2 separate regions of the Homo sapiens genome follow, and region 2 is linked to region 1. The links come from fine-mapping of genetic effects on gene expression. A gene starts in region 1. The other region holds a variant in brackets. All regions are shown on one strand. Distances are between the middles of the regions.

Region 1 (2,909 bases):
TTTAAATCCAATAAATTATGGAATTACATTTAAGACAAGTTGAATACACGTCAAATTTAGAAAATGACACAAGCCACACACAAAAAAGGAGGGAATAATATTGTTAATGTCTGTTTGCAAAAGCAGCATACGGTGTCACAGTTTCTTCCCATTTCTTGACTCTCCTCAAGATCAGAGAAAGGGAAGAGGGTGAGCTGGAATTAACTGAGCTAAGTCAGTTAACCCTCTGGCTGAATAAGGGTTGCTTCTGATGTAATAATTAGAAAACGCAGAAGCCTCACACCGTAGTTTTGCAATTTTCATGCTCTTCTGCACAAACAATGAAGCAAATTTTAAATTAATTATAGAGCCATACATCAGTACTTCACAACTTAATGTTCCATATTAAATCAATCCACACTCACATGGATTTGGGTGCCCCCCCCTTTCTCCACCATTATGTGATTTTTTTCCCCCTCTCTATAAATGTTTCTCTTCCACCTTCTGTTTCTTTCCTTTTCTTTTTCCCATTTCGGCGTTTTCCTGTCCCTTTCTGCTCATTTGGCTTCCCTTCCTCTCCTTCTCTGACAGAGTGTTTGGCCCCATCCTGGTAGCATCCTTTTTTTCAGTCCCTGCTATTGTTTCTGATGGCTCTCTAATTTCGCGCATTTCTCCCTCTTTATCCTCCATTTCTGCTTCCCCTCTGTTCTCCCTGGAGAAGGGCGAAGGGTGTGTATCCACCCCGAGTGAGGGCTTTACCAGGGGGAGGGAAGAGGGAGTCAGAGAAGAGTTTTAAGCAGAGAAACGACGCGGTGGGCGGTCGGTGTCCACACTGACCTAAAGCAAAAAGGTCGGGGCCAGTACCCACTTCAGAACGATTTTAATCCGAAATGGACGCAGATCTCTAGACCCTCTCGGAGCGACGGGACTGGGAACGTCTTAGGGCCACGCCGCGAGAGGAATGAGCAGGTTCGGGGTTTTAACCTACAGGGCGACCCCAAAACCCGACAGCGGAGCGTGGGAACCTGTGGCCCGCGAGGCGCAGGCTTGAACCCGAAAGACGGAGACTCACCCGAGAGCGCCAGTAGCCCCGCGAGATCCGCTTCCGGGTCGGCAGGAACCTGCGCGTACGCGAGTGCACTGGGGCGGCGCAAGGGGCAAGGGCAGGGGCAGGGCGCGGACAACTGTGGGGATGGGCGGGCAAATGGCGGGGATGGGCGGGGACAATGGCGGGATGGGCGGGGACAATGGCGGGATGGGCGGGGCCTAGGGGTCGGACTGCCGGACCTCTCCTCGGCGCGTCCCAGCGACTTTTTTAGGCCTGTTTGTCGCCCAGCAGTACTCGATTCTTCACTTTTGGATTCCCTTGAATCTCTATGGTGTCCTTTGGAGCCTAGCTAAGTAAAAAATTAGAGACCTGTGGGCCCCTTATATTGGAATCGGAGCTTAAGATGGGAAAGGTTTGCTTGAAAACGTTTCTGCGAGCGATGGAGGCGCGTCCTGCGACGAGGCGGGAGGAGCGCTGGGACCTGGTGGATGGGAGAGGGCGACGGTATAAGGAAGCTCTTGGATCCAGGAACTTCTGAAATCCGGACGATTAAAATTTGTATTTAATTAAGCGAAAGCTGGAGTTGTCTGCGTAGGTGATGGAAACTGGAATGAGATGCATTTTTGTGCCTGTGCGGAGTGTACAATTTTATATTGACTTTCACTGGAACGTAATTTTTATTTCCGCTCCCCAGTCACCCAGGAGGCAGAGATGCACCATGGGCTGAGTTCCAGAGAATTTATGGGGTCAGACCCTGGGCGGTGGGGGGTGGAAGGCTGAGGCTTGGCTTTAAAAGAACGCAAAGTTCTGCTTGTATCGATCTAAATTTATTTTCCTTTATTATCCTAATGCACATTTCTTGAGATAAATTACAAATCCAAGTGCTGGATTTATTGGAGTTGGTATGTTGTGTTTTGTCTAAGTTATTAATTACTAATATACTATCGTTATTATTATTTTTATTATTATTTTGAGATGGAGTCTCTGTTTCCCAGGCTGGATTGTAATGGCGCGATCTCGGCTCACGGCAACCTACGCCTCCTGGGTCAAGCGATTTTCCTGCCTCAGCCTCCCGAGTACCTGGGACTACAGGCGTGTGCCACCATGCCTGGCTAATTTTTGCATTTTTAGTAGAGACGGGGTTTCACCACGTTAGCCAGGTTGGTCTGGGACCCCTGAGCTCATGTGATCCGCCCACCTGGGCCTCATGAAGTGCTGGGGTTATAGGCGTGAGCCACCGCTCCTGGCCTTTAGTCTGTAAAGTCTTTATTCTCAGTTATTTGGAAGAGTATTTTTAACATAATATGTGCTTGGCAATTCTCCTGGCCAACTGAATTGATTTCTCTTGGGCCCAGAGAGGAAACTTATTGACTGGAGGCTCCCCAAGAGAAGATGAGCCCATATGGGGGTATCTGAGTAAACCAAGGTCTATCCACTGTCTCTTTGGGTCTCTGTTTTCGTAACTGGGAATTACATCTGATAACAGGTGAAGGGTGAAAAAAAAATGAGAGTGCATTTTAGCATAAAAATACATATATGTTATTTACATATAAACATACACATATAAAAATTCTATTTATTTTACATATAAAAATACATATATGTATTTAAATTTTTTTTTTTTGAGACGGAGTCTCACCCGTACAGACGGGGTTTCACCGTATTAGCTACGATGTCTCGATCTTTTGACCTTGTGACCCACCCATCTTGGCCTCCCAAAGTGCTGGGATTACAGGTGTGAGCCACAGCGCCCAGCCTCTTTCTCTTTTCAATGTATTAAATGCACAAGATTCCATACTTTCAAATTCCATTTTGCAGAATTATTATATTTTCATAGGTTTCCCAAATCAAATATTAATTCAAGTTTCAGTTAGTTGTTTTA
Region 2 (2,909 bases), 210 kb after region 1:
CCTCTATGTAAGAAAAACTTCAGGAGGAGGCGTTCCCCCTGCTTTCTGAGGACGCCCTACTGCGTAACTGGTAGCTTTCAATAAACTCTCTCGCCTCACTACACTCGGACCCTCGCCTTGAATTTTTTACTGCGCAAGATCCAAGAACTCTCACATGGGGTGTGGACTGTGACACCATTTTAGGCAACAAAACGACTGAACGTTATACAAAAACAGACAATTAATCCAATTCTCACAAAAGCAGGAATTTGGTAGTCCTCATCCAGCATGCCAAGCAAAGATCCACACTGTGGAGTCAGCGCTCACGAGAACAAAGGGGCTGACAGCTGGGAAACATGGGTGGATGAAGGGTGAGGCGCTCAGCAGCCGCCAACTGGGATTATTGGAAAGGGCAATAGGGTATTGAAAGGCGGAGGACACGGTCTAAAACGATACAAAAGCTGCAGAGCCACTGGGCCTGCGAGCTTCCCATGGGGAAGCCGGGACTCCCTGACAACTGCACAAACTCGCGTGGGGATTTCAACATCCCGAAGCACCCAGATTCCTTCTGGGCGGGTTCTGGACAGAGAGCGGGGACGGAACGGGAGGGGTAAAGGTCGCCGAGGGGGCCGGGCCAGAACAGGTGCTGGGTCGGGGAGAGAGGGTGGAGGCAGCTTTGGAAACCGGGCCTGGTTAGAGGGTGGGGGTGGGGCCTGGAATGGGAGTGGGCGGGGCAAGAGGGAGGAGGCTGCCTGGGGGCCGGGCTGGACAGCAGGAAAAGGCGGGACCCGAGGGTTAGCGTCATCTTGGGGGTGGGGTCTGGAAGGGGTTTTTTGTTCTGAAGGGCGGGGCCTGGAGGGGGCGGGTCCGGATTCTTTTCTCAGCTGGGCCGTGGATGTCGCCTGCTCTCATCCTCTTGCCCTCCAGGACTGGGTCCTCCGGGTTCTGATTGGTGGATTGTTTCTGATGTGCCATGATATTACCCCTAATATCACAGGGATGCTTCCTGCCCGTTGAAGTTACTATTTCGAACAATCGAAGGTAAAACAACATATTGTAGTGGGCCACCTGTACTGAACGTTGAATCGTTTTTCCTCTTAAGTTGAAAATAGTTTCAATGCAAAGAGCTTTTTTGGAGAAGGTAGAGTCGCGCGTCCTGCAGGCGGGGCAAGCTCCCCTCAGTCTGGGGCAGGGCGGTGGAGAGGGTCAGGGACCTCGGTAAAGGGGTGGAGTGGGGCGCTGGTTGCAGCGGGCACAGACAATTAGAACGGCTTATTAAACTAAGCAAGGTCCTGGGTTGGGTTGTTTGAGTGGATAATGGAAACTGAAGGGTGACAAGCAGAACTGCCTATTATACACAGGAGGTGAAGGACAATTTCATATTTCATGGAAATAAAGTCA[G/A]GGCCCGGAGCGGTGGTTCACACTTGTAATCCCAGCACTTTGAGTGGCCGAAGTGAGAGGATCGCTTGAGCCCAGGAGTTTGAGATCAGCCTGGGCAACATGATGAGACGTCGTCTCTAATAAAAATATAAAAAAATCAGCCAAGTGTGGTGGTGCGCGCCTGTGGTCCCAGCTGCTGGAGCGCTGAGGTGGGAGGATCGCTTGAGCCAGGGAGTTGGAGGCTGCAGTGAGCCCTGATCTCACCACCACACTCTAGCCTGGGTGTCAGAGCTAGACCCTGTCTCAAACAAACAAGCAAATAAATGAGAGGTGTAATTCCTCCTGTGAAAATAAAGAGATTTACTTTCCTTTCGTCTCTTTTCTTAGGAGACTTATTTAGAAAATTTGTAAATGGATTTTGTCTGTCTTCTGAGGTTTTTTGTTGTTTTGTTTTTGTTGTTTGTTTTTTAGATGGAGTTTTGCTTTTGTTGCTTAGGCTAGAGTGCAATTGCACGATCCCAGTTCACCGCAGCCTTCAACTTCCGGGTACAAGCCCGGTTTCGAACTCCTGACCTCAAGTGATTCGCCATCTTGGCCTCTGAAAGTGCTGGGATTACAGGTGTGAACCACCACACCTGGTCTGAAGTGGTATTTTTTAGAAACTAACTAAACCTTTTTTCAGCTTGATGACCCAGGGATGTATTTCTGAAGGACTTGGGAGCTCTCTTTGAAAGGCAAAATACAAGGGAGACAGTACCTGTATCTCAGTAGGAAATTAAATAATTCATACATCAAATAATTCCAATTTAAAGCTATGACCTTTAAATAATTATGAGCCTTTGAAGAGAGAGGCCATTTCTCTTACTGTCTCCTGTCTCTGAAGTAAAAGCTGAAAAACAACAGGAATGAAGTCAGTGGCAAGACCAGCTGGTGCCACTGATGACCAGGCCTGAGGTTAAAATATTAACCCCCAACTCTAACCACATGTGCTCTCAATCTATCATGACCCTTTCACGTGGAACCCCTTACAGTTGTAAGCCCTTAAAAGGACCAGGAACTCCTTCTTGGGGGAGCTCGGTTCTTGAGATGCCAGTCAGCCGATGCTCCCGGCCAAATAAAGCAACTTCCTTCTTTAACCCTGTGTGTGAGGGCTTTTGTCTGTGGCTCGTCCTGCTACACCTTGAGAGAAATGTGCTCATTCAGCTTGAGTCCAGTGGAATGCAGGCGTAACTTCTACGAGTTTTCCTTGCCACGTGTGGTGGCCCACACCTGTAATCTCACCACTTTGGGAGGTCGAGGTGGACAGATCACTTGAGGTCAAGAGTTTGAAACTAGCATGGCCAACATGGTGAAACCACCTCTCTACTAAAAATACAAAACAAAAGGCCAGGCGTGGTGGCTCACACCTGTAATCCCAGAAAATTGGAAGGCTTGGGCGGGTGGATCACAAGGTCAGGAGTTTGAGACCAGCCTGCCCTACATGGTGAAACCCCATCTCTACTAAAAATACAAAAGTTAGCTGGGCTCCTAGCTACTCGAGAGCCTGAGCC

Evidence for each region.
Region 2: its variant is fine-mapped to the expression of ZNF677 in activated CD8 T cells (Schmiedel 2018, PIP 0.95).

The regions. Positions count from the first base shown.
Region 1 is chr19:53,253,783-53,256,691 of GRCh38, forward strand. ZNF677 (zinc finger protein 677) reads right to left here and starts at 1,091. Exons shown (of 5, transcript NM_182609.4): 1 at 1,052-1,091.
Region 2 is chr19:53,462,710-53,465,618 of GRCh38, forward strand. It overlaps the pseudogene VN1R102P. Among named protein-coding and RNA genes, the nearest start is that of ZNF813, 3.6 kb to the right of the region's middle. The variant G/A (reference allele first, on the strand shown) is at 1,381.